Regions from separate parts of the Homo sapiens genome. Here regions 1, 2, 3, 4, 6 and 7 are each reported to be linked to region 5. The links are microRNA targets in miRTarBase. Many come from high-throughput screens and were not tested one by one. Region 5 holds a microRNA gene; each other region holds the end of a gene's coding sequence.
What was found. The annotated mature microRNA hsa-miR-130b-5p reads ACUCUUUCCCUGUUGCACUAC and lies in region 5 at 1,413-1,433, opposite strand. An mRNA with a match to its seed (bases 2 to 7 or 8) in the 3' UTR can be bound and repressed. Matches are read on the target gene's strand: a 7mer-m8 pairs with bases 2 to 8, a 7mer-A1 pairs with bases 2 to 7 and ends in A, and an 8mer does both.

Region 1 (4,069 bases), not on the chromosome of region 5:
TACATTTTATTCTGTCTGCTCATCTATTTTCCAGTTTTTCTACAGTGTATACATTATTTACCAAATGTATATTTTAAGATATTTTAAAATGTTCACTCTTTGATTCAGTCATTCTACTTCTTAGAAACATCTTAAAGTAATAATACAAGAAGTATGCAAAGATTTAGCCACAGGAATGTTTATTCCAAAAACGTTTACACTACCATTAAATTAGAAAACCAAAATGCGTAAAGAGGAGTATAAAGTTGGACTCTAAAGTCATTAAAAATATTTAACAAAATGCTTACAGGGCATTCTTATGTGGGGAGAGAAAGCTTACAAAGCATTCTGTACAATATAATCCCATTTTTATAGATGCACAGAATAATCAAAAGATAAATACCATAGGTTGAGAGTGGTTAGTAGAGGGCCTGGGATTGAGGATTCAAGGCTAATGCTTTCCCCTGGGGGCTGGGGGTGTAACTGAAGTCTACACTCCCAGCCCCCATGGGCCCCAAGCACCCTCACCTGGCCCTCTGCTAAGGGGTAGGAAGGGGGCTGGGAGGAAAATGCAAGACAGGAGGAGGCAATTAAACATGATGGTGCTCAGGCCAGATTCCCTCTGAGGATATCTTCTGAACACAGTTCCAGCACGATCTGAAATGTAATTTCTGTAAAATGCTTTCATTGTTTTTAAAAAGTTAATCCAGATACTGCTGTCAGCTTTTCATAGTATTGGTTTCTGTAATGTCCTAATAGAGCAAAGGAAGGACACTCCTGAAGTTAAAAAGTTTCTACGGCAGGATTTGCAAAGACCAGAAGAAAAAGGTTACATAGCAAAAATTTTCTTCTGGTTATCTTTGGGTGTTTTTTTAAATTTTATTTTATCTGTATATTCTAATTTTCTCACAACAAATATATATTGCTTTTGCATTTTACAAATATACAGAAAATGTAATCTGGAAAAAAGTTACTTTTTCCAGTTCTAAGTTAAATAAGTGAAAGTCACTTTACTGCTTACAAAGAAATCTTTAAATTTGAACTTGGTATCCACCATCTGCAACAGATCATTCAATCTAGGGATGTTGCAGAACAACAGGGACTCCTCAAATCTCACTTTCCTTAGGAATATATTTTTCTAGCTATATTTGACTATGTCCTAATCATGTTCTATTTATTTGTATATCAGAAATAACAGTCATATCATGAAGAGCTACCTTATCTTAGGCAAGTTGCTTTTCTCCTTCCTTTCCAACTTGAAAAACACACTTCTCAGATTGCTACAAAAGGCCAACCTCTCTTTTTTTTCTTTTTTGAGACAGGGTCTCGCTTTCTCACCCAGGCTGGAGCACAGTGGTGCAATCTTGGCTCACTGTAGCCTCAGCCTCCTGGCTAAGTGATCCTCCTGCCTTAGCCTCCCAACTAGCTGGGACCACAGGTGTGTACCACCATGCCTATTTTTTTTTTTTTTAATTTTTAGAAGAGATGAGGTCTTGCTATGTTGTCCAGGCTGGTCTAAAACTCCTGACCTCAAGCAATCCTCCTGCCTTGGCCTCCCAAAGTATTGGGATTATAGGTGTGAGTCACCACACCTGGCCAACTCTCTTCCTTCTGTATGCACATTTCACCTTTAACATAACGTGTACTATCATCATTATTTTTTTGAGATAGGGTCTCACTGTGTTGCTCAGGCTGGAGTGGAATGGCACGATCTTGGCTCACTGCAACTTCCACTTCCCAGGCTCAGGCAATTCTCCTGCCCCAGCCTCCCAAGTAGCTGCGACTATAGGTGTGCCCCACTGTACTTGGCTAATTTTTTTTTTTTTTTTTTTTGTAGAGACGGTGTTTTGCCATGTTGCCCAGGCTGGTCTTGGACTCCTGAGCTCAGGTGATCTGCCTGTCTTAGCCTCCCAAAGTGCTGGGATTATAGGCATGAGCCACCACGCCTGGTCTGTATGTGCTTTTTAAAAAGCCTATCCCATACTGAATTGTGGGAACCTATGAAGTGTCTCTTAATGTCAATTAAAAGTAACAGTGGCTGCAGATATTGATTTCTGAAAGTACATGAGAATTTGTCTCTAACTATGGTTGAAACAACAAAACCAAATCTGAATCAGGTAGAGGTCTACCAGACACAAACTCTGAAATTAAACACTAATAGGACTGTTACTGGGCAGGGGGGACTCCTTTGAGTAAAAAGGTAACATACAGTTTTCCTAGGTGGCTGGTGCTCTCCCCCAACTTTCATACTGGAACAAGAGTTAGGCTCAGGTTTACATGATCCTCTACTATTCTTTTGTGAAGAATGACAACTGAGTCAGTTGGTTGAGCTTGAAGTGTTCCAGTCCTAAGGGATTCACTCTCACTTAATGTCATATATTGGTAAGGTGCCTACATGAGGTCAGTGTTTGTGGCTACATATAAAGACCAATGATGAAATGAGGAATTATTTTTTTTTCTTTTAATAAGGGATGGGGTCTTGTTATGTTGCCCATGCTGGACTCAAACTCCCAGACTCAAATTCCTGGGCTTAAGCTATTCTCCTGCATCAGCCTCCCAAATAGCTGGGACTACAGGTGCATGCCACCACACCCAGCTAGAGGCAATGATTCTTAAAGTCTCCGCTGGCTATCTAGGACTCTTATTAAATATCCTGTTACTTTAAAAAGGCCATCCAAATATATTTTCTTGAAAGAAACATTTATTTATGATCTTTATTGGTGAAATAATTTCAAACAAATCCAGAACAGGTTCTCACACTTTGAGCCTTTAGTGCAAAAACATTATGCCATGCGGGAAATAAAATGCTTATCCAGTGGAGCGCTCCCCTGATGCATTGAAATATTAGGATACTCAAGCAGAAGACGACTTATGTGACAGAAATCTGCTCATAAATCTGCTTGAAAAAGGGCATGATAAACCTCATATTAAGGTTTCTCACAACATAAATATGCTTAAGCAACTTAATTCCAACTTAATTTCAAAACACCCCAGGAATCAACTATCCCTTTAAATAAAAAAAATAATCAATTTATATTCTTCTTAAAAGAACTCCAACAATTTAAAATAAGTTCCAATTCCATATATATATATATATATATATATATATATATATATATATATATATATACACACACACGCACACACACACATTTATAACTTAGGTGCTCTTTTGCGCTATATACTTTAATTCATGCAAAAGTGATAGAGGACTGGACTTGAGGCTCTACAGAGGCCTTTCTGAGAAAGCTGTGTAGCTCCTTACTCTGGCGAAGAACAAGGGGGTGTACATCTTGTCAATCTCAAAAGCACTGACTGCAGTCTCACCAGTTGATCTGTAAAAAAAAAGCACAAAATTACTAGTATGAGGAAATTTCAATTCATTTAAAATCCTTGTGTGTTTGGGGAAGGTTATTCTATGCTTTAGCCTTTTTTATTTTTAATTCATCTTAGGAAATTCTATATAATATAGGCATATTGTAGAAAACTCGAAAAATTTAGAAATGTATACAGAAACATCACCACAATTCCAACACTCAGAGCCATATGAAGGATATTTTCTAGTGTTTCTTGAGATCAAACTTAGTAATTCTTTTTATTTCATTTAATTATTTGTATTTTCCCACATCATTATTTTTCAGAAACCATTTTTAGTGGCAGGATGATATTTCACTGTCTGCTTGTACCACAGTTTACTTAATTGGAGATTTAGGTTGTGTCTACTATTTCTCAATTAAAAATTATGTGATTTTGATGTCCTTCAGAGATTCCTAAGATAGAATTTTTAAGTCAGAAGCTATAGACATTAGGTTCTTCTTAAAATGTTTCAGAAATAACTATATTCCTAGAATATAATTTGATTATTTAATAATTGCATGATCAACAGCATAATTATAGGCAGGGGGGAGGGAAAGTAGGTGGTAAGTTATGCTACCACTGAGAGAGACAAACGAAAGCAGAGAATTCAAGTGATTTTATAAATATTACAAGGAAGTCAATGTGATAATTAGCAGCTACAAATAATGCCTCTGGTAATGTCCTTTTTTCTCCTAAATAAACAATGTTTTTCTAATGGGTCAAGTATAAACTA
Region 2 (4,069 bases), not on the chromosome of region 5:
GTAGTGGGTATCAACTTACTCGACATCAGGTATTTCACACTGGTGAGAAACCCTATGAATGTAAGGAATGTGGGAAGGCTTTTAATTGTGGATCAAGCCTTGTTCAACATGAAAGAATCCATACAGGGGAGAAACCCTATGAATGTAAAGAATGTGGGAAGGCTTTTAGTCGTGGCTATCACCTTACTCAACATCAGAAAATTCATACCGGTGAGAAACCTTTCAAATGTAAGGAATGTGGGAAGGCCTTCAGTTGGGGTTCAAGCCTAGTTAAGCATGAGAGAGTCCATACTAATGAGAAGTCTTATGAATGTAAAGACTGTGGGAAGGCCTTTGGTAGTGGCTATCAACTTAGTGTTCATCAGAGATTTCATACTGGTGAGAAGCTTTATCAACGTAAGGAATTCGGGAAGACCTTTACTTGTGGCTCAAAACTTGTTCATGAGAGAACTCATAGTAATGATAAACCCTACAAATATAACGAATGTGGGGAAGCCTTTCTGTGGACAACTTACTCAAATGAGAAAATTGATACTGATGAAACCTTATGATTGAAAGTTGTAAAAGAATATTTTGTGTGTGTGTATAGACAACTTATCATAATAAGAACTCTTACTCTTGAGAAACCTTGTGAATGTAAGGGTTGTGCAAAAGCCATTCATTTCTGTTTATGGGCAATTATCTTGCTATCCAGCAATTCATACTAGTGAGAAATATTTTGAATATAATTAATATGAAAAGGCCTTTAGACTTCTGTACAGTCTTATTGGATATCAATTTATACTGATGTAAAATCATTTAAATGTAAGGAATGTGTGAAGATCTTCATTCATGACATAAGGTCTGATTAACATCAAATAATTGGTATTTGTTAAAAAGAGTTTAAATAGGAGGAATGTGGGAAGGACCTAAACTTAATTCAGTTCTTGCTGCACATCAGAGAATTCATACTGCTGTGTAATCCTATGCACATAAGGAATTTGGGAAGGCTTATAGACACAGTAAATATCTTAGAGTACATCAGAGAATTCATCCAAATGAGAAATCATTTGAATTAGAATTATAGGAAGGCCTTTAGACAAATGCTACCCAAATTATTATCCAGAGACTGGTGCAGTCATAAAATTGTCATCTGTCAATTGTGAGATAAACGTGGAAAGTGAGTAAATATTTGGAACTTTTATAGCAATTTGACATTTCCATAACATTCTGTTTTACAAAATTATCAGTCCATAAATGATTGAGAATTGAAAACAAAGTTTGTTCTTTCCCAGAAATAATTTGAGACAAGACTCACACTTTTCAAGACATGAGACAAGTGACAATTTAAATAAGAAATTCTTCACTTGCACCTCTCTGATTAGAATAGCAGAATATTCATACTATAGCAAGATTTGGCAAATGAGGGAATCAAAATTTTCTAATGCCTGTAACAGCATAAGATAATTTATACCAGATATGTTAAATGTGCAGAAGCCTTCCAACACTATTCAGTCTTTGTTAAACTTCAGTAAGTTCATCCTAGAGAGTAACTCTGTTAATGTAACAAATGTAGGAAAACCCTTATCCATGGCAAATACCATACTGTCATCACCATTTCACCTCCATACTACCTGTAGGATGGTGAGCAAAATGCTTATCTCTTCTGGACATGATGTTTCAAATGCTGATGGTAACTAATAATGCTGTTACAGAGATTAGATGGATTTAGTATGCATCATATCCTTGGAAGAGTATCTGGTATGTAGCCTATGCTTAATACATATTAGCTATTGTTCATATTGTCTTTATTATTAGTATTACTACTGGTGAATTCTTAGGAGAGGCACAACCGTTTTGAGGAATGAATTCAGAAAAGCTTCCCATAACCACTCATCCATTTGAATTTCAGATAGTTCATTCTGGATAAGATCTAGTACAGTATAAAGAATTTGAGGGGATTTTAATTCAGAGTTTATCCCTTAAGCTGAGCTAAAAAAATGAGACTTGAAAAAATCCAGACTTTTGAAGAGTTTAGGAAAGCTGTTTTATAGAATGTCACACATTAGTTTCATTCCTCATGGTGAAATTTGATATGGGCCTCTCCTTCACATTTCTCGTAACATGAAGTTGGAAATAGAGGCTTAAACATTTTTTACCAGAACACTTCATAGATGGTGATGTGTACTTCATCTTGCAATACCTCAGAAGCAGATAGTATCCATTTCCCCCAGTATCACCAGTGCCAAGTTTGATCACTTATGGTAACTACTGGAGTTGTCTGTTATAAAGATCCATTATATACCTAATAGGATTGGTCAGCCTTGATCAATGATCTTTGGAAATGTGTGATCATATGGTATGTATTTTACTTTTTTTTTTTTTTGGGACAGGATCTCTCTTTCTGTCACCAAGGCTGGAGTGCAGTGGTGTGATTTCGGCTCACTGCAACCTGCACCTCTCGGGTTCAAGTGATTCTCGTGCCTCAGCCTCCCAAGTAGCTGGATACACAGGTGTGCACCACCATACTGGCTAATTCTTGTATTTTTAGTAGAGATGGGGTTTTGCCATGTTGGTCCAGGCTGATCTTGAACTCCTGCACCTGCCTCAGCCTCCCAAAGTGTTGGGATTACAGGTGTGAGACACTGCGCCTGGCTATATTTTACTATTTGGAAATCACAATGCATCTTAAAATTGATGGCTTCTTGCAACCACTTTCAACCAGGTGCCTGTCATGATTTAGTGCTAGCATCAAGGCAGGTTAGTTATGAAGAAATAGAGTGTGTGTTTATATACTCACACAGTTAGAAATCGACCCTTTTAAAAATTATTTCTTTTTGAAAATAATGTCAGTTCCATCAGAACTAATGCATTGATAACTAAATGTCTGTGGTTCCTTGTCATAGGTCTACACCTGACCTCTCTATTTTGTGCACATAGGGGATTCGTAATATCACTGTTCAGTCAGTCATTCACCATCTAGTGATCATCATTCTACATGATTGCACTTTTTCAAAGGCATAAAAAGCCAACAGTTGCACTCTTAATAATCAACTGTAACACAAAGCAGAGTACTTTGGGAGTTTTAACAGGATATATTATTGGTAACTGGCTATTATGCCACTCCCTCTGGGTGCCACATTTGCCTGTTAACCAAGAAATGTAGACATGGTGCCTTATCCCAACATTTCTGAAATTATATCTCAAGGAATCACCAGTGCTTACTAGTACTTGACAATGAAGGAGGATTTTACAGTTAAAGAAGCTTATAAAGTAGCATCTACTAAATCCCCTCCTAAGGAACAAGCAAAAGCACCTCACCAGCTTATCAAAAGACTAAAGAGAAGTGAAAAAAAAAAAAAGACGGCCGGGCGCGGTGGCTCATGCCTGTAATCCCAGAACTTTGGGAAGCCGAGGCGGGCGGATCACGAGGTCAGGAGATCAAGACCATCCTGGCTAACACGGTGAAACCCCGTCTCTACTAAAAATAGAAAAAATTAGCCGGGCGTGGTGGCGGGCGCCTGTGGTCCCAGCTACTCGGGGAGGCTGAGGCAGGAGAATGGCGTGAACCCGGGAGGCAGAGCTTGCAGTGAGCCGAGATTGCGCCACTGCACTCCAGCCTGGGCGACAGAGCGAGACTCCGTCTCAAAAAAATAAAAATAAAAAAAGACTAAGGAGTATTCTAGTGAAGAAAATGGTTGAACTTTGTTTAAACTGGTGTATGGCAAACTTCACTGTTGAAATACTTATTCCCATGACCTATTATCTTTGTAGGTGGGTGAAATTGCATTGGGAACTGCTGCTATAACCAAAAGAGAATTTCAGTCACCATGTCTGGTTGTTAGCTATGATGGAATGGCAGCATCATGGTCTCAGTTATGAGTGAAAATCTTTGTTGTAGCTAAGTAGTGGTGCCTCCTGAGTTTTATTAAATGCCGTTTCACTATCTTTTTCTGCACTTCTATAGTATTTAATTTGTTCATGTGATAATTTATTCTGATAGATTCACTGACTTTTTCCCATTCCTGGATATTCCAGGTTAGTCATAGTATCCTTCTGATGCATTGCTTGATTTCATTTTGCCATTTTA
Region 3 (4,069 bases), not on the chromosome of region 5:
CCTTTTGTGGTTCTGTAGCATCTCTCTTTACAAGGCAAATATTCTAACCTTTCACTTTAAAGTTGTTTCATCCTTCCCTTATCTTGCAGACTATATGTCGGAAACCAAAGACCTCCACTGATCGACACAGCTTGAGCCTCGATGACATCAGACTTTACCAGAAAGACTTCCTGCGCATTGCAGGTCTGTGTCAGGACACTGCTCAGAGTTACACCTTTGGATGTGGCCATGAACTGGATGAGGAAGGCCTCTATTGCAACAGTTGCTTGGCCCAGCAGTGCATCAACATCCAAGATGCTTTTCCAGTCAAAAGAACCAGCAAATACTTTTCTCTGGATCTCACTCATGATGAAGTTCCAGAGTTTGTTGTGTAAAGTCCGTCTGTGTGCAGCTGTACAGGCAGCTTACTGTTTGCTAGAGGATGCGAAAGTCATAAGTTCTTTACATATTACTTGTGCCATATCTTCTTCACCCTAAACATAGCTCTTTCTTTATAATATTTGTGATGATGGAAACAAAAGCCTTGGAACAATTGCACTTTAAGTATTACACAGAAGTAAAAGAACTACAGAAAATGTACAGCAAGACAAGTGCCCGGAAGTTCACTGATCCTTCAGAAGGAAATGCGCTTTACTGATTGCAAAGCCTTCAGAATATTGGAGTGTGGTGTGTTTGCTCATCTGATGCTTTTTAGTTCAGTTACATGTAACATCACATTTTTTTATCACGTGAAAGATGTTAGATTTGTTTGCTTATAAATTTTTTACCACTCCCACATAAAATGCTCATAGTTTGGGAGAGGAAAGAGGGAAGATTCTCTCTTCTTTTAACAGAGAGATGATTGCTCTGTATACCCATTGCTTCCTCCCTGAGGCTGTCCCAAAGTGAACACTGATGGAGTGGTCAAAATCATAAGGTTGTAGCAAGCCAAAGATACGTATGTGACAGAAGCACATAAGCAATAAGCAGAAAACCAGAAGTGCATGCTGTGATGCCTGTGACTCCTTCATCCCGCTCAGTGCCATGTCCTCTTTTGTGATCTTCCAGAAAGCTCCAGGATTCATTTGAGTTCCACATCCAAGTAACAGATGAATTATATTCATGTTGTAATGCATTTTGTGGAGTTTACAAAACCAGTGTCTGTTAAAACTTTGGAAAATGTCTTAGAAAACGTTGGTGCTTGGTGATGCTTTATTTGTTTAATTATCAAGAACAAATTATGGCAATGCTAGTTTCTGCTTAACCAAAATACTCTGTGTATATATTATACATATATAAATACATGGGATTGTGTATGTCTATATGTGTTTAAAGCTTACTATGTCTTCATTTTGGCTTCCATGACTATCTTTTATACATGGAATTCCTTAAGATTGAGAATATGTCACTGAGTGAATGATACCTGCAGACAGTCAGTTGATATATGTAGAGTTCAGAATGACTGTTTTCTCATGTGCCTTTGGCCATGATTCTCAACACTGATTGTATAACAGAATTTTGGGGGGAGCTTTTAAAAAATAATGACTGAGTCTCCCACCAGACCGATTACATCATTCTCTTGTGGCGGGACCCAAGTAGAATTGCCTTTTCTTTTAAAGTTCTCCAGATGGAGCTAATATGCAACAAAGTTGAAAACCACTGATCCTGGGGGTGTCTTGTTAATTTTGAAGTAAAAGTGTACAGAAGACGTAGTGTATGAGAAAGGGCCATTTTTAAGACAGTTACCTGTTGTGCTGCTGTTACAATATATAATGAAACCAAGTCAGGGGAGTGAATTTATCAATCTTTTGATGTAAAGTAAAAACGTAGTTCACACTTCAGGAGAGAACTTCATAGCACAATGTCTTTCTATAAGATATTTTTAATGATTTAGTATTTTACAACATTTGTTTACCATATTTTGATATACCATTTTTTTCTATCTGCCCAGTTTTATTAAAAAAACTATATATTATTTTCTAAAGAAACAATCATATTTTTATACAAAATTATGTTTTCAGGTAACGAAATAGATGTAGGGTACAGTGGAACATAAGCAGTGTTACCCCTGGCTGGGAGTCAGTATTATACAACAAATGGTGAGCTGGAACATGCCCTGTCTGTGCTGTCCCTCCTGTGCTGGGTCGCGGATGTGTAGGCAACATTGCCTTATCACGCTAGGTTCACCTGACACTTTAAAAGGAAAAAAAGTTCCATAGAGTTCTGTGGTCACAAAATTGTTTTGCTTTTATCAAATACTTTAATAGAACCAAAGTTGCAGATATTGGAATGTATGGAAGTATCTCAGTCTCTGCATAAGAGGATTAAAGTATGAAAGGATCATTTAATGACTGTTTTACTTATAAGTCATTAAGTAATCCACCATTTCTTATGGATGATGCTTAAGCCTGGTGAGGTTTGTACTCTAAGGAGCCCAGATCATAATGCAGTGCATTTCCTTAGCCCTTAGAGTTTCTTGCAAACATTTAAAAAAAGACATATTTAAGAAAGAAAGATAAAGAAAAAACATATTTAATTACTGTAAACAGGTACTGCTTTATGTTTATTTTCTCTCTACTTCAACCAAAATCAGATCTTTGAGGTTTTGCTGACATTGTTGGTGGTTTTGCACATGTTCTTTCTAATTGGATTTATGAATAGTTCTATGGGTTTTCAAAGATGAATCATGCTAAGAACACTTCTGCTTTTTGATCCACTGTTTGCAGCAGAATTATATATATGTATAGGAAAAATCCACTTTGAATAATCCATGTTTTGTATTTGGAAATTGTTTTTAAAAATAAAAAGGAAAGGAAATATATAAAGCTGTTATTTATTCTGCATTTCTTACATATCTATCGCTTGTCAGTATACCCGTTTTGGTATATATTGCCTCTGCACATCTACATTTGTATATGCAACAGTGAGCTTTATATCTACATAAACTGTAAATAATCCTTTCTGTGAAAGGATCATCATATCAAGATGATACCAAAAGTATGTAAAAAGAAACCTGCATTATTTTGTAATTATTTCTTATAGATATTTCATGGTAAGATTAGCAGTCAATAAAGTTACTTTTTTGCCTTTAAATTGCCTTTTTGATTATTAGAGCTCTCAAGCGAGAAGCATTAAGGAGTGACAGTGTTTTCTTCATGTTCTTTGCTGTAATGGAGCACAGTAAAGGACAACAAGGTTCCATGTGATAGAATTCCAAGTAAAACAGTCCTGGTGGTGACGATGGTAATAACTGATGCTGAGTACTACCATGTGCCAGACCCAGTTTCACATGTATTCAGATTTCATGTGTTCAGTCATTTAATCCTCATATCCCCAGAAGGCAGGTACTATTATTATTCTTAGTTGCAGATGTGAAGGAATCAAGCTTCCAGGAGTTTGTGGTAGTCAGCCACTGTTGAGTTCAAATTATGGAGCTGAAAAAAACTCTCCTTTAAAAGGAAATATTTTAACCAAAATAAGTAACTTAAACCTGAAAACCGTCATCATTGGACTGTTGGTTTAATTATAAAATAAACAAATGGTTGCATTTAAAAGCATGCATTCACAAAGCTGAACGTGAGGGCAGCATGGCATTAAGGAAAGAGCCCAGAGTTGAGAGTCAACAGCATTCCGAAAAGCCCCAGCTCTTTTTCTGAAGGGAAATCCATTACCTTCTCTTTGCGCCACTTCTCTTGGCCAAAAAATGGAGTTAATAATTTAAAGGACTGTTTGGAGAATTAGATAAGGTAATGGTTGAGTATGCCCCTGATGACTAGGTGGGAAAAGGAGGGCTGTCAAATCTGACATTTAACTTTTGTGAAACAGAGCCATTTGGATTCACACGGTCCAAAACAAGTTTTCTAGTCAAGTGTTACGAATTTTGCAGTGTCTGATAAATTGTGATTTGGAGTCCAGGAAAGAAAATACTTGGTACCTACTATGCATCTAATAGTACAAACACCGTGTCTAATCCTCACAACCCTTCAAGGAGTTGTCTGTCACTCGCATTTCACAGCTGAGGAAACAGTTAAACTTGCCCACGACTCTACAGCTAGTGAGTGGTAAAGCAGAGTTTTAAACCCAAACTTTT
Region 4 (4,066 bases), not on the chromosome of region 5:
AGTGTAACTATCACAGCCAACCTAGACAAACATGTTTGAGTATCGTAATGCTTACAAAATGATATTTCCTATAAAAAAAAGAAAACCCCAAATGGACAATGGCACAAACATGGTAGAAGTTAACGTTTCACTCTAAAAACCCCAAATGGGTATTTTTGATCAGGGAACTCTTTCTAAGTGGCGATTTGTGAACCCAGGGTCCTTCCAGCTAGTGCCTCTACTGCCCTCAAGTGGCATCTCCAGTTGCCATGTCTGTGTGCACTGGGCAGGCAAAAGGAGCTTGGCAGATTGTGTGTCAGTTATAGCACGTCTGGACCGTCACTTCTGTTTGCTTTCATGGGCTGGAGCTCCATGCATGGCCACAGCTAACCACAAGGGAGCCAGGAAACTGGCTATTTATCCAGGAAGCAGAGGAGATACTGAACAGCTTGCAGGTCTCTGCCACAATGTCTATTGATAACGTATGTCAGATGTCACAGAAGAAAATATGGTAGTTCTTAATGAGAATGCCATAGATTATTCTTAAAATTCATAGATGTATACAAATGTTAACAATCTTAATGGTATTTTAGGGATGCGGAAAAGGCAAATTTGTATCCATAAGTATGGTGTCATTTTTTTGTCTTTTAGGAATATGTGTTTTTAACCTTATTTTAAATTATTTTAATTTGTAGGGCCCTTTAAAAGGACGCAGAGTTGAAGGAATTCAATATGAAGACATTTCTAAACTTGCCTGAGTTTGAAAATTTGTTAACAATACATTAAAATCTTAAAGCATCAAATTGGTGTTCGCCAAGGCATTATGAGACTCTACTGTGTTAGGGTATATTCTTTTGTATAAAACAAACAGGTTTTTGAAAATATTACTGTATAGTTGTTCAGCTAAACTTTGAGAAGAATTTAATTATGTCTCATGAGGTATCAAACTATGTAATTTTGTCCTTGTTATTTTTGTTTCCTTTGTAATTTACTTGATGAGTTTATATCTTCATTAAAGAATGTTATTATAAAGTGTTTTATCTATGACAATTTAGAATCATGTAATTGGAGGAAATCCTTCATACACTCTATATTTTCAGTAGTAGAGTAGTAAAGTTGAACTCTAAGTGTGACTAAATTTTAAATGTCAAACTATAAATATAGAAGCAGCTTTATTGTGGTAATAATTCATATACCATACAGTTCACTCATTTAAAATATACATACAATTCAGTGGTTTTTAGTATTTTTGCAGAATTGTGCAGCCATCACCACTGTCTGATTTTAAAACACTTTCATACCCCAAAATGAAACCCTTTAATAGTCAATCGCTATTTTTCCCCTCTGCCCTAGCCCTAGACAGCCACTAATGTACTTTCTGTCTCTATGGATTTGCCCTTTCTGGACATTTCTTATAAATGGAATCATATAATATGTGATCTTTTATGACTGGCTTCTTACACTTAGCATCATGTTTTCAAGGTTTATCCATGCAGTAGCATGTAGGCGTGCTTCATTTGTTTTTATGGCTGCTTAATATTCCACTGTATGGATGTACCGTATTTTGTTTGTCCATTCATCAGCTGATAAACATTTAGATTGTTTCTACTTTTTGGCTATTGTGAATAATGCTGCCATGATCACCCATTTACAGGATTTTATGTGAACAGAAGCTTTCGCTTCTGCCAAACTCTTCCAGAGCAGCTATACCATTTTACAGTCCTACCAGCAATGTTGAACTATAGTTTTATTTGTTTTTAATTTTTTTACTTTTAGAGACATGGTCTCACTGTGTTGCCCAGGCTGCTGTCAAACTCCTGGGCTCAAGTGATCCTCCTGCCTCAGCCTCCCAAAGTGCTAGGATTGCAGGTGTGAGCCACAGCACCCTGCCTAACCATACAGTTTGAAATAAGTAGGGCAGTGTATTATTAGGGAATGCAAAAGACAGGAAACCCACATTTGCCTGTGCCAAAGGAAAAACGAAGGGATATTTGTAGTGCACATGACTGAAAGGAGCAGACGCTAGCTTCCAGGGCAGCGGGACCGGGTGTGAACAGCCTTCCCTGGGCTTCCGCTCTGTCTCTGGCTCCTGTGCTGGCTCTCTACATTTACATTCTTGAGCACTCTAGGTTTACATCTTACCCTTCAGCAGCACCGGGAAGAGAGAGATGATCTATCTTTTCTTTTTCTTTTTTTTTTTTTTTCTGACACAGAGTCTCACTCTGTCACCCAGGCTGATTGCAGTAGTGCAATCTCGGCTCACTGCAACCTCCACCTCCCGGGTTCAAGCCATTCTCCTGCCTCAGCCTCCTGAGTAGCTGGGACTACAGGCATGCGCCACCACGCCCAGCTAATTTTTGTAATTTTAGAAGAGATGAGGTTTCACCATGTTGGCCAGGATGGTCTCGATCTCTTGACCTTATGATCTGCCCGCCTCAGCCTCCCAAAGTGCTGGGATTACAGGCATGAGCCACTACGCCTCTTTTTTTTTGTTCTGTTTTTTGAGATAGGGTCTTGCTCTGTCATCCAGCCTGGAGTGCAGTGGCACAATCATGGCTCACTGCAGCCTCGTCCTCCTGGGCTTAGGTCATTGATTCTCCCACCTCAGCCTCCCGAGTAGCTGGGACTACAGGCATGCACTACCATGCCTGGCTAATTTTTTTGATTTTTAGTAGAGATGAGGTCTTGCTATGTTGCCCAGGCTGGTCTCAAACTCTTGAGCTCAAGCAATCCTCCTGCCTCGGCCTTCTAAAATGTTGTGATTACAGGTGTGAGCTACCACGCCTTGCCTGAGTTGATCTTCTACAAGAGTTCAAACAAAAAACAGACCATACCAGGATGATCACTTCAAACATGAGGATGGGTATAAGCTGACGTCAGACACAGGTATGGTGCCAAACCCTGGGATCTCTCTCTTTAACTGAGAGTCAGGGAGGGCTGATTGCTTCTATTCTCAGAAGATGGGAGAACGTATGCTGTTAGCAGAAATGTAAGAGGCAGTAAAGAAATACTAATAGGATGATGGCAGAAGCTTTACAGAAAATGTTCCTCAGGGATGAATTAAGGTTTTTCCAAAGTAACCTGACAGCACATTATGGAAAGCAACTGGGTTTTGGGTGTGGGCAGTCTTTAGATCAAATTCTGGCAGTTCTGTTCATTGGCTTTGTAATATTAGAATGTTAATGTTCTTGAATTGCAATGTTTTTAATGTATAAATTGTCAAAATGTTTTTCAGCAGGGTTGATGGGAGACCTACAGAAAATACATATAAATCATCAGACATGAAGTCCAGCACATAGTAGGTATTGAATAAATGGCAGTGAGTGGTCATGTCCAGAAATGAAGCCAAGAAGTTGAGCCTGGACTACTAAGAATCTGGTCTGAAGAATTTCAAAAAGGAGAATGGTTCTCCCTGATAACAAATAGTGATGAGTAAAACCAGACAAATTACATATGCCTCCCCCAAGTATGTACGTTTGGAATCAACTTGGTGGTTTTCTTCAGAGAAAAAATGTTTCATGTCTGCCTCCCACATTTAATTCTCCAACGTCTTTCTGAAATTATTTCAGAATGAAATGAGGCAGCATACTTGAGGTTAAATTCAATAAAAAATATCTGAAGCATAAAAATACGATTATAGACTTCACAGTAGTTTTTTCCCTCTGAGTCTGTAGAACTTGATAGAGTTTATGCTAAGCAAAATGACTGCAGATAACTAACAACAGGTCTCATATTAGACTTTGATTTTTGAAGTATCATAAGCTATTTTTCTTTATTTCAAACATAGACTTTACTTTTTAGAGCAGTCTCTGTGGGTTTTGACAAATGTATAATGACATGCATCTGCCACTGTAGTATCACACAGAACAGTTTCACTGCCCTAGAAGTTTCCTGTGTTCTGTCTGTTCCCTGTCTCCCCCCAAATCCCTGCTGACCGCTGATCTTTTTACTGTCTCCCTAGTTTTGTCTCCATCGAAGGTCATATAGTTGGAGTCACACAGGGTGTAGCTTTTTCAGATTGGCTTCTTTCACCTGGTAGAACATATGCATGTAAGGTTCCTCCATGTTGTTTTGGTTAGGTTTTTGT
Region 5 (4,069 bases):
GAGGCCGAGGCAGGAGAATCGCTTAAACCCGGGAGGCGGAGTTTGCAGTGAGCCAAGATCGTGCCACTGCACTCCAGCCTGGGCGACAGAGCAAGACTCCATCTAAAAAAAAAAAAATTTGATTTAACAAGCTGTTCTGGAGGAATATTCAATGCTGTGAAGCCCAGAGAAGGCTTCCATTGGGAGGGAGCCAGTGAGCAGAGCCCTGAGTTCAGTCTCCCCGCAGCAAGAGCAGGAGACAGCTGCATGGGGGTCTCCAGCCAGTGGGTACAGAATCTGTACAGGACTGAGGGGTGGCCACCTCCAGCCATGGCCCCTGGTGCCTAGAGGAAGGGAGGATGGATCTAAGTCAGATGACCCTAGGATCAAGGAACCCCAAGGGATCAGGACTAGGAAGCCAAGGAGCATGTGTCATTGCCCCTGTTCCTCCCACGGGTGCCAGGGCTTCTCTCCCCAGGGTAGGGGTAAAGCAGTTTCCCAATGCGCCCAGCTAGGGATGAGGGGAACTCCCAAAAGCCCATCTGGAAACCTAGTCCTCCTCTAAAGAAGATTTGAATGACTGTGACTGGGCACGTAGAAACCTTTTGCACCGTGTCAGGTCTTGATGGTAGAGGTGGTCATCCAAGCATGCCTGGGGTCAGGCTCCTTGGAAGTTCAGCTCCAACCCTGTATTCCAGCTGGGACGGTTGGAATGTTAGACACCTCAGTCCCTCCTGCAGGTTCAGGGCACACCTCTCTGTAAGAGAACAAACTGGCATGGTTGGTAGACATCATTTGCAGGCTTTGTATCCCAAGTCCACCCATCCATCTCACATAGTACCACTCCAGCTGAGTCCACTCAACTGATCAGTCAACTGGTCAGTCCATAGTACCACTCCAGCTGACGTCCTGGGGTGAAGGCTGCCTCCTGAAAGGCCTGCCTTACCCCCTTACCCAACTGCCACCCAGAAGAACATTCTCTCCAGAGCCTGGCCCTGTTCAAGCTTCCAGCAAGGACTGGGCCCAAGCCAGGCCTAGAATGATCTTCCATGCAAAAGACTGGGCGTGTATTTCCCCTAAGACCCTGACCAGGCCTGGAGTTCCAGTCTTACCCCAGGGACCCAATGTGGAAAGACCTTCAAACAAGAGCTTTTCAGAAGCTGGGGAGGTCTGCTCCTGCACCTGTCCAGCCATGACAGGATGGAGAGTTTAGGGATGATTCTCCAGCTCTGCACCCACCTGATCCTCTGATGGAGGGTCCAGTCCAGCTTCACATCTGTGCCTAATCAGTGGAAACACTTACCCTCTGGGCACCTCAACCTTCTCAACTGGAAAGTGGAGTGAGGCAGCAAGCTCCCTTTCCCCCTCCCAGGGTAGCAGGCTGGACCTGACCGATGCCCTTTCATCATTGCACTGCTTCCCAGCGGCCTATAGTAGTGCAACAGGGAAAGAGTGTCGGGCAGGCCTGCCAGTGCCTCCCCCAGGGTGGTCTGCAGGGATCTGAGACCTGGAATGCAGGCTGGCTGGGGCGGGGCCTCTGCCCGGGGGGAAAGGGTGCCCTCTGACCCCAGAGGCCCAGGCCTGTCTAGAATCTCAAGTTTCCATGGAGAAGGGAGCGAATTGGGTAGGGGGGAGGGGAGGGCCTGCAAGCCCAAGGGGCCCTGCCTGGGGAGTGGGAGGTGAGGGTTATAGGGAGGGAGATCCCCAAGGCTGGTCCCAGATGCTTTGACAATATCATTGCACTGCTTCTCAGAGCACAGTAGTGCAACCTCGTCAGAGCACCTGCGGCCAGCAGGGGGGACCCCACCACCCCCAATACACGCAGGGCGGGAAGCTCAACCATGGATGGGTGGGTGGGGCAGAGCCCCCGTCCAGTCCATCCGGGCAGGGAAGGAGACCGCAGCGGGGTGCGTCCCTGGGGTCTTCAGAACCCAGGACACCCAGGCCTTTCCCAGAACGCTCCGGATTGAGGTGGAGGAGAAACCCCAGACTAGGGGGTTGTTCCAATCCCGGAGCAGGAGCTGACGGGCCACGCAGGGGAGGGGGCGCACACACAAAGACGAACCCGCACTCAGCCGCAGTCCAAAGCCGGCTAGCGCCCGGAGCGGGGTGGGTACAGCCCGACGACCCTGCGCCCTGACTCGGCCCGCGGCTCCAGGAGAAAAAGGGCGGCCCCACCCCGGGACGACGCGCCCCTTCTAGCTGACGACTCCATCCCTGGCCCCTTGCCCTGCACTAGATACACTCTGGATTCTTTTCTAACATATTCTTCTGCCTGGAGGCCCAGAGTGGAGCAGAGGATGGGGGCTCCCCGCCCTTCTAGAGTTCCCTGCTCCAAAGAGGGCCCCCGGGATCCCGGCCGCGCCCCTCCGCCTGACCCGCCGAGTAGGGCCGCCCAGCCCAGCCCAGGATCCCCTCCTCAGACACAGCTGACTCACGCAGACATCCCTTCCGCCCAGGGCCCGGTCAGGACGCGGAGGGTTAGACGGAAGAGGATCCCGGCCATCGTCTGCCCCCGGGTCCCCGTCCAGACGACCCTGCACCTCGTGGCGGCCCCTCGCCTGCCGGCTCCATCTTTAACCCGCTGACAGTCGGAGGGGCCGGGCCCCCGACTCCTTAGCATAGCGCTGCGCTCATTGGCCGGCGCTGGCGCGGGGATTCGCCTCCTGCATGCCTGTTGGCTGAGACGGGAGAGATTTCAAAATAGCCTCCGGGTTCCGATTGGCCCGGCGCCGGCCGAGTCTCGGGCTCCGTGGTTTTAACAATGAGTTCTACAAACACTTTTTCCCCATTCATAACTTATCAAAAGGAACTTTGCCCGCCTTTTCTCAGCTCCAATCTCTGCGAGTTTTCTAGCGACACCGACAAGAGCGCTTGGAAGCCCGGTGAGGGGCGCCAGGCGCGAGCCCACAGTGGGGGAGGCCGAGACCCTGTGGAAATTCCCGAACCCCCGCCAAGCCTGCTGTGAACGCGGCCGCGGGCTGCTTTGTTATGCATGCTGAGGTTGCTCTCTGCGCCTCCTGGATGGGATATTTGGACGTGGTGGGCTTACAAACTGGGGTAGCCCCCCTCCCAACTCAACCACCCCGGATCGCCCGGCAGGACGCGAGTGAGGCTTTCCTGAAAACCCCCGGGTATGGCTGGGCTATGGAGACCGGGTCCTGGGCCCCGTGGTCTTTTGGATCTGTGGGAGATATGGGGAACGGAAGTGTAAGCTTTGGTTTCTTCGTGATTGTGATCCACTTTGCGGAGAAGCATTCATTAAGCGCCTACCCTTCGCTGATGACTAGGAAGTATATTGATCACCGGGCTGTTGAACGGCTCCTAGAGGGAAGGGAGGAGCTGTGCTTAGACAACTGTGCCCCTGCAACCCCTCCTGCTTTATTATCGGTCCAATGGCTGAGAGCAAATGTTTTTGAGGCAGGCAGAGGTGGTTTTGAATCTTTATGAACCCCTGTTGCCTTCTTGCAAAATTGAGATGGCAATCAAACCTGCCCCATAGGGCTGGCTGTTGCCAGCAGCAAATGAGATGCTGTGTAAATTGTTGGCCCAGCACCTGGCATTTAGTAAGTGTTCACTGAAAGTGAGTTCTGCTGCCACTACAGTTTTTATTTTTGGCCTTGTCCTGCATTCTGCCTGGAACAATCTTATCTGCTCCCACAGCATGGGCTTTGGTTGCCCAGGGATTCCCACTTGTGCACTGTTGGGTTCCTCTTGGTCAACACTCCTCACCTCACTGCTTACCTATGTGTGGTAACGGAGGTGGGGGAATAGACAGAGAGGGAGGAGTGGGCTTTGACAGCCCATAGGAGCTGGGGCTGGACCAGAGGAGTGCCCCCTTGGATTTGCAGGGTGATATGGTTTGGCTCTGTGTCCCCAGCCTAATCTCATCTAGAATTGTAATCCCCAAGTGTCAAGGGAGGGACCTGGTGGGAGGTGATTGGATCATGGGGGCACTTTCCCCCATGCTGTTCTCGTAATAGTGAAGGAGTTCTCACAAGATCTGATGGTTTTAAAAGTGGCAGTTTCCCAGCCTGGCCAACATGGTGAAACGCTGTCTCTACTAAAAATACAAAAATTAGCCAGGTGT
Region 6 (4,069 bases), not on the chromosome of region 5:
ACCATTATTTGTATAACTTTTCTACTTTAAAAAAATCACATTTCATGGTTTTTCCCAACTCATTTATTCTCTAGTTCCTAGTCTAGCGTTTTCAAGCACCTCTTCAAATCCTGATAACCTTTTGCTGGGAGGGGGAGTTAATGAGTCTATAATGATTCTGAGACAGAGAACCCCTAAGATAAAGTGGAGGAAAAACGTCCTTTATACATGATTAGATATGCTCAGGGGGTACAGATTAAGAAGTAAATGCAATGGAGCAAAAGTGGTATAGTAACAGGAAATATTTAATTTTCCAATCTCCACTTTCCATTTTTATAAACTGAAAGAAAAAAATTTAATATATTACAAAATATCTGTACATAGACAAGATACACCCAATGGGGGTCAAAAACGAGAGAGAAAGGAATCAGTGTCAGGAACCTAAATCAGGGAGAATGAGGTGGCAACTGACACTTTTCTGATGCAGCATTCTCTCTCAAAACCTGCTGGTAACCATTTTAGCACGGTAACTATATATGCATATTATATATACACACACACATACAAGTGGTTGGGTGATGTCTATGGCATAAGCTAATAGAAGTTCTACTTGCAAATTTGTGCTAACTGCCCTGCTTTAAACGTATAGATTTGATGTTGCTTTCAAATACTTATCGTTCCTATGGACAGTTGAAGAAAAAACTAAGGAAACTGGGTCAAGTATATTTGTTTTCAAAACCACAAAAATGATCACGGTCAAACCAGTTTTGCCTCCCACTCATGAACAGAATCAGATTTCTCATCTGTTCAAAATAATGTATTTAATAGACAATATCTCTCATTGTACAATAATTAAAACAAAACGAAAACCACTTTTGAATGGAATTAATTGGGTCTGTAATTTTCAAATAGTCAAGGTGAAATTCTGCCAAACCTTTACTTCCATCATGTTTATAGATAACGTAACTGAAAAATTAACAAATACCTTTTCTTCCTCCATACAGATTCCAGGATATTTAAATAAGTTTTTTTTTCTCCTCTGCTTTTAGAAATAGTCAAAACTACCAAACTTTGTTTTCATTTTAAAAGACTCCCAAAATGGGGGTGGGGGTGAGATGGGATCATACATACACATACACTCACACATACACTCACCCCCTTCCCTAGTAGGGATGAGGGAATGGAGGCTTAAGTATATTATTTAGGATATTTGGCATAATTAAAAATAAGAGGTGGGAGAGGGGAGGGAAAAACATTATTGATGACTGCTGATAACCAAAATACAATGAAATATATAGAGAATTTTATTCATATTTGATGGGAAACCAACTTTTTTTCATTGAACAGATACTTCTGAAAGTATCCCAGGCTCACGTTCTTTAATAAAAAACAGGGAGTGGGGCCCAATAACTCAAATTCAAATATTCTAAAACACAAAGGCCCATGTCTGAGGACTAAGAAGTCAACAGACAGAAGGTTCAGATGAACTTTAATGCGATTTACCAATAGCATGTCAGTAAGCCTAGTAAATCTAACTGGACACACTGGTATAAAAAGCCATCAATGCCAAAATAGCTAGAAGGCTCTCTTTCTAAATCAGTGTTTGGCCCTGGAGGCAAGGCCAGATCAAAAACCAGAGAATAATAAAGAAATACACACACCGATATCTAGCTATATCTCATTAACAGGGGAAAACAGTCTTCAAGTAAGTATCTGAAGAGGGTTCTTCTTTCATTTCTTTAAAGTTTTTTTTTTTTAAGTAATGCACCTTTCTCTTATAAGTAGATTTTATTTTTTAAAATAAGAACTTGGCATTGAAACATGAAACTTGAGTTTTGAAAACTACCCTCCAAGATGCTGAAGTATGTTTACTTTTTCTTTGTAAAAGGGGGCTTAACCTATGTTTCCTGAAGGTCTAAGTCTGTGCAGATAAATTATATGACATGTATCTGTTTTTAAAACACTCTATATGCTGGTACTCACATAGAAATAGAAGCCAGAATGAGAAGCCTCCCAAATTATCCCATCCTGACAGCCCTTCCCTTTTTCATTTCCTGTTTATGATAAGGCAAAGTTCTTGCCTGGAAGCACAATTTAACCCCTTTTACCAAAACCAAATCCAAATCTCTTTGGAGGAAAAATCCCTAAAAGAACTGGCAGGGTACACATGCTGGGATGTGGGTATGTCAATACTGTTCTTCCTCACAGTATGCTGTTTTAAAATTATTTTTTTAAAAAAGGTCAGGTATTGATGTATCTTCAGAAAAATACCCACCCTAAACTAGGTTACATTTCCATGTATCTTCAGGATTTGTTTTTCTCTTTGACAATATCACAATGCTCTGTTTGAAAGGTTTTTGTTTTTTTTTTGACATAAAAATATATGTGTAAACAATATGCTAAATGCTGTTATTAGCCCTCTAGGAATGGAGGCATCATCTCTAACCACAGCTCAGCAGCAATGTCCAAGCTGTCCACACTTACAAATCAACTTCCCCATCAGAACATGGTTTAAAAAACAAAACATTTTAGAATTGAAGAGTTACAGAGAACAATGTAAGAGTCTGAATTTCCTTTCCTTTATTTCAAAAAAAGTAAAGAATTATCCCAGGTTCTTGGGCATCTCAACGATTTTTTCCAAACAAATGCCTCAAAGAGAGAGAAACAGCGAGAGCGAGCAAGCGAGACAGAGAGAGAGAGAGAGAGAGAGAGAGAGAGAGAGAGAGAGAAAGAGAGAGAGAGAGCACACATCAGCAAAAAAGGAAAGAGACTGGGTAAAGTCTACCTACTTGCCCAAGAATGCCACGTTCTACAACCTGCTTTATGTGCAGGGAGAAGGGCGTATCTTTTGTCAAAGTGGAGTAAACTTTAAGGATGAGTAATTTATTTGGAAAAAAAGTATGTTCAAGATGCTCAATGGGGAAAAAGTGTTCACTTAAAAGCAAAATGTGAGATGGTGGAGAGGAAAGAAACATTTATTCAAATCAGCCAGGCCACTCTGTTTCCCTTATAGCAAAAGCCAAAGAGCAGCTCAAATTTTGTGAACACTATTCTCTTTAAAGGAAAAAAACCCAAAACACCTAAATTAAAATTCAAAAGAAAGAAACCACACACAATCCCCCACCCCAAAACTTTAAAAATCAAAGAGCCTCTCCTGAGCCATCTCAATACTGAAACTGTTCTTTCTCTCTTCCGATCAGTAAGTGCAGGCAATGAACTAATAAAACATTTACTTTTCAATGTAATGATCCTCTCCATATTCTCTACTTGTATCTACTAAGGTAGAGTTGAAGTAAATGTTCTGGCTATAGCCCATCCAGGGGGAACTGGTGCCAACATCATTATTTCGTAAGTCGCCTGCTAGTAGCAAGTGAGCAAGGAATACAACGGACAGCTTTGCAGTAGCCAAATGCAGATGATTACCTCGCTCTGGCAAATGATTTCATTAAAGATTCAGAGAACTGGATGGAAGGATGGATAGGAAAGGAATCTTTCAGGACACTGAAGTCTCTGGGTTAGTAAGGAACTCCTCTCCCTCTTCCCCCTCTTGGTGGGACTCTTGTAGGCCCCCGATAGAGTTTTCCATAAGCAGAAGACTGAGTTGGGCCCCCCCAGTGAAGGCCTGCTCCTGAGCTGCTGGCCCCAGTGGTTCCTGGCCCCAGCTCCCCATAGTTTTGCAATTTGGTCTCTGCATGTACCACAGAATTGCTGCTTCCCTCAGCCTTCAGGAATGGTTGCCCGACCACCGGGTGTAACGCTAAGGGGACCCTGGCAAAACGGAGGTCCTGGTCCCCTGGAAACTGCACTGACCCTGTGCCCTGGTAACTGCTGGACTCCCCAAGGTGGCTCAGAGAGCCTGAGAAGGTCCTGTTCTTCACCAGGGTCTGGACCAAGGATTCTGTCAAGGCTGGACCAGAGTTTCGTTCATCAGTGTCAATGGCACTGAACCCTGTTTCAGGCCCATCAGTGTTTCCATAAGTCCTGTTTGGACGGGGTCGGGTGGAGTACTCCATTGGTCTCAAGGCCTGGTGCTCATGTGGCAGGTGGCCAGGAGGCTCTGCTTCAGGCTGGGATAAAAGTTGCAGCAAGG
Region 7 (4,069 bases), not on the chromosome of region 5:
CCGGATAGAGTTGAAAGCATTGCATGGCCAGATTAATCAGACTTACCTGATATATCAGAGATTTCTTCTTGGTGCTTTCATGATGCACCAAGGACTTTATTCTTCCTACAGCATACTCTTTTTCATAAAGGTAAAATTCAGGCCTCACAGGTTTTGACAAATCTTAAGTTATACTAAGTCAAGAGCAACCTCCAGCTTTAAGATTGTATTTGTTTTGACCGTAGATAAAAGGAACACAAACCTAGATGTTGGTCTTGGATATTGACTTAATAAGGGTCAATACTTTGGTAGTAAATATTATATTAAGCGTAGGTACTTGGAATTGATTACAAGGTATATTCCTTAGCTAATTTGAAATTTTCATCTTTAAAATAACTCTTTTCTCATTTCTGCAGGTTCTCTGAAATTAAACCAGGGTGCTTGAAAGTCATGCTAAAGTAAAATAAACATCCTTGAATTAGAAGTATGAAGGTTTGTAGGTTAAAATTACTTTTATTTGCAGTAATTCAGTCAATTCTACCCTAAAGATGTGTTTTATTATAAATAATATTCAATTATGAAACAAAAAAATTATGATGTTTTTCAAAATGCAAGTGAGGTTTGATTTTTTACTGAATCAAATGCAAATGTTACCTGTTAAAGATATTACAGAGAAATTTTATTGATTACAAAATATGTAAGAAAATTATCAGCTACAGTTTTAAAGTTTAAAATGCTCTGATTGTTTCTCAGAAAAGGTTACCTTTGTATTAATTGTTGTATGACATTTAGTAATGTCCTAAAAGTCTTTTGTGAGAGGTATTTAAAGTGCTTTGAGACCTGATTCATGCCCCCCAAAGGGTGGTATTAAAAGAGGAAAAAGGACATAGTAGTGGTAGTAAAGAAAAAAAGGAGATCTAACAAAAACACTTGAATATTTTTTATTTTCAAAACTAAACACATAAAATGCTTTTATTTTGCCATATCCTACAGGAAGGAAGACATGCTTTTGCCCTTTCTTCTGCTTTGTATATGACCTTGATCTTTTACCTTTTGTTCTGTTCTTCTGTGTGCATTTTATGGAAAGAAAGTTGGGTCTGAGATTATATTGTAATTTTATACTTTCTATAGACAGAAAGGTTTTCAGAGAAAAAGAAATGGTTAAATATCTTCCAGATGTTGCTGCCTTATCGAAATGCTTCTAGAACTGTCTGTATAAGTCGTATTTCAGACAGTACTAAATACTTATATTTTATTTTTGAGGCATGTAATTTTAAAACTGCAGTAGGTTAAAATTCTATTAAACAAATATAGAAAATATTTTGTTTATAATTGGCCTGGTGTGGTGGCCCACGCCTGTAATCCCAGCACTTTGGGAGGCCGAGGTAGGTGGATCGCCTGAGGTCAGAAGTTCAAGACCAGCCTGGCCAACATGGTGAATCCCCGTCTCTATTAAAAATACAAAAATTAGCTGGGTGTGGTGGCGTGTGCCTGTAATCCCAGCTACTTGGGAGGCTGAGGCAGGAGAACCGCTTAAACCTGGGAGGTGGAGGTTGCAGTGACCCGAGATCGAGATCACACCACTGCACTCAGCCTGGGTGACAGAGCAAGACTCCGTCTCCAAAAAAAAAAAAGAAAAAAAAGAGAAAATATTTTGGTTATAATCATAAGAAGAATCCTTACAATTTAAAATATTTTCACTTTTATTTTGAAAAAGAGCCAACTTTCTCAAAGGAAGCTGTCATTAACTTCTGTTGTTTGGTTAGCTAATAAATTCTGTTAGTATGCAAGTTAAACCTGTGTAAAGGAGGTTATAATGTGGTAAGGTATAATTTTCCAATATGAGACAATGGCTTAAATTTGCCTTTGGAGATGGAGAATATTTTCAACATACATAATTTTAACAAATAGTTTTGTTGCTTTTTGTTAAGCTTAAAAAAAAATTTGGATCAGAAATTATAGGATTGAGCTGGTACCAAAAGAATCCTAAAGTACAGAATGGTTTTCCAAAAGAGCAGACATTTCAATGAAAATAAAACCCCAAAACATTTTTTTTATATATCATGATTGCATGCTTTTAAAATAAGGAGGCTTATCATTGAATTTTAGTTCCATAAAAATGAAAATACATGTTTATTATTTAGAAATGGTTAGTGACTGGTATTGAAGTATTATTCACACTTATGTTTGTAATAATTTATTTAAAGAATGCCAACAGTTTAGCACACTTTTGTAATCTCTAGAACAGTTCTATACATTAAAAATAAACATTAAAAATAAAGCAGTTCCTTTAAACAACTTACTATGAAACTATAATTGTTAATGAAATAAGATATTCCTATGTATACATTAGTATGATTTAAGGGTATGAAAAACAGTGCTAAAATGTGGAGTTAATTGGAATGTGTGCAGCTGCATACTCACTTTCTGTGTTTTTATATTTCCTTACCTAGTTTTAAAAATCATCACTTTTCGGCACTTCAGCTAGACTTATTTCAATATTATAATTATGATTAATGAAGGAGCAGTCAGAAGTAGAGGTGTGGTATTCCGTGGGCAGAAGTCAAATGAAAAAAGCTATATTGTTTACTTGTTTACTATATCAATGTTAATATTATGCCTTATTTTGATAAATCAAATAGTATATCTTAATCATTGTTGATAAATATACAGGCAAAGTTTGAGCATCATATGTATTTTTATGAAGCTGCTTAATTCCAAATTGCCTCCCACCCCACTATCTAGCATAGTTTAAGCAACACATAATTTTGAAAGAAAAGTTTGTAATCCCTCCTTTCTTTTTTTTGCCCATTTCTAAATCCTGTATGCCCGCAGTAAAGATAGTTTGGGGATTTTAAAAGTTTTCTCTATTACCCATTTCTAAATCCTGTATGTCAAAGATAGTTTGGAGATTATAAAAATTTTCATGTATTGGTGTAGGTTGAGTATCCCTAATGAGAAAATTCAAAATCTGAAATGCTTCAAAATCTGAAATTTTTCGAGCACAGACATGATGCTCAAAGGAAATACTCACAGAGCATTTTACATTTGTAGGTTAGCGATACTCAACAAGTAAATATAATGCACATGTTCTAAAATATCCCCCCAAACCCCAGCAATCCAAAACACTTCTGGTCCTAAGCATTTTGAGTAGGGGATACTCACTCAACCTGTATATTTGTGCTAATACATGACTCATTAGAATGATTCTTTGTAAACTTAATATTTTAAAAGTACAGCACTTCTGTAGTATGGAAGGTTTCAGTAATAATTATATTCATTCAGTAGTCTCTTACCATTATCTCCCAGATGGAAAAAGAGGACTAATGTGGAAACCCCAGAGGGTGTCCAGTTGGACCAGGGAGATATTAGACACTTAACAGTATTTTCAGTCTGTCCATCTCTTTATTCCAATGTGAGAAATGGAAGTGTTTTTTTTTTTACGTTTATTGGCTCTTCATATTTCTCTACATTATTTTTAATGTGCAGTTTCTTCAATTGGTTAGTATTTCCATACTATTTGCAACTTTATGGCCTTTAAATATAGGACATATTATATAGCAGAAATTTTGACTTTAAATCCTCTTGAGTAGTATATTTTGAGAAGAAAAGCTATACTGCTCTTCTGGATGGTTTCCATCCTTTATTTAGGTCTTTTCTTTTTGAATTCAAGTGTTTTGTATGCTTAGAAAGTAGACATGTATAATATTGAGATCGGTTATTTCTGAGCTGGAAATTGGAAACTTTGGAAACTCAGGAAATTGCTCTGACAATGTTTTAACTGCTCTCAATTTAAGAAAATGACGAAATGTATAAAAAAGACAAAAATAACGTGTGCTGTTTTTTCCAAGTGCTTTTTCTAAGTGCTTTTCCATTGTGCAATGAGGTGAAGTTTGGTAATTTTTCGGTGTAGTAGTTAAATATTGCTCAATTTTTATTTACATGTAAAGAAAACAGATTTAAATGTTTATGTGGCCAAAAGGTGTCATTTAAAAGGTAAAATAAGTTTATGTAGAATGTATGTTCATGGTGCTTATTTTTAAAATGTAATTCAAGTTTACAGTATTACTTAATGCTTCTTTACAGAATT

Region 1: miRTarBase lists FBXO9 as a target of hsa-miR-130b-5p. Seed matches in the 3' UTR shown: 7mer-A1 at 1,276-1,282.
Region 2: miRTarBase lists ZNF283 as a target of hsa-miR-130b-5p. Seed matches in the 3' UTR shown: 7mer-A1 at 3,318-3,324 and 7mer-A1 at 3,791-3,797.
Region 3: miRTarBase lists FRMD6 as a target of hsa-miR-130b-5p. Seed matches in the 3' UTR shown: 7mer-m8 at 802-808.
Region 4: miRTarBase lists KIN as a target of hsa-miR-130b-5p. The part of its 3' UTR that is shown has no 7-base or 8-base seed match.
Region 6: miRTarBase lists CDK12 as a target of hsa-miR-130b-5p. Seed matches in the 3' UTR shown: 7mer-A1 at 3,031-3,037, 7mer-A1 at 2,298-2,304, 7mer-A1 at 2,104-2,110 and 8mer at 1,564-1,571.
Region 7: miRTarBase lists N4BP2 as a target of hsa-miR-130b-5p. Seed matches in the 3' UTR shown: 7mer-A1 at 1,620-1,626.

What each region holds. Positions count from the first base shown.
Region 1 is chr6:53,096,967-53,101,035 of GRCh38, reverse strand. It overlaps FBXO9 (F-box protein 9), which reads right to left. Exons shown (of 13, transcript NM_033480.3): 13 at 163-3,314. The coding sequence ends at 3,206. Among named protein-coding and RNA genes, the nearest start is that of FBXO9, 34 kb to the right of the region's middle.
Region 2 is chr19:43,848,091-43,852,159 of GRCh38, forward strand. ZNF283 (zinc finger protein 283) reads left to right here. Exons shown (of 7, transcript NM_181845.2): 7 at 1-3,927. The coding sequence ends at 551. Among named protein-coding and RNA genes, the nearest start is that of ZNF283, 23 kb to the left of the region's middle.
Region 3 is chr14:51,727,656-51,731,724 of GRCh38, forward strand. FRMD6 (FERM domain containing 6) reads left to right here. Exons shown (of 14, transcript NM_001267046.2): 14 at 90-3,072. The coding sequence ends at 374. Among named protein-coding and RNA genes, the nearest start is that of FRMD6, 78 kb to the left of the region's middle.
Region 4 is chr10:7,752,751-7,756,816 of GRCh38, reverse strand. It overlaps KIN (Kin17 DNA and RNA binding protein), which reads left to right. Exons shown (of 13, transcript NM_012311.4): 13 at 675-4,066. The coding sequence ends at 737. Among named protein-coding and RNA genes, the nearest start is that of KIN, 33 kb to the left of the region's middle.
Region 5 is chr22:21,650,680-21,654,748 of GRCh38, reverse strand. It overlaps MIR130B (microRNA 130b), which reads right to left and starts at 1,445; the gene lies at 1,364-1,445. It overlaps MIR301B (microRNA 301b), which reads right to left and starts at 1,768; the gene lies at 1,691-1,768. It also overlaps the pseudogene LOC107985532. RefSeq lists enhancers at 2,055-2,104, 1,641-2,312, 2,313-2,983.
Region 6 is chr17:39,530,742-39,534,810 of GRCh38, reverse strand. It overlaps CDK12 (cyclin dependent kinase 12), which reads right to left. Exons shown (of 14, transcript NM_016507.4): 14 at 267-4,069. The coding sequence ends at 3,495. Among named protein-coding and RNA genes, the nearest start is that of CDK12, 71 kb to the right of the region's middle.
Region 7 is chr4:40,153,797-40,157,865 of GRCh38, forward strand. It overlaps N4BP2 (NEDD4 binding protein 2), which reads left to right. Exons shown (of 18, transcript NM_018177.6): 18 at 396-4,069. The coding sequence ends at 441. Among named protein-coding and RNA genes, the nearest start is that of RHOH, 41 kb to the right of the region's middle.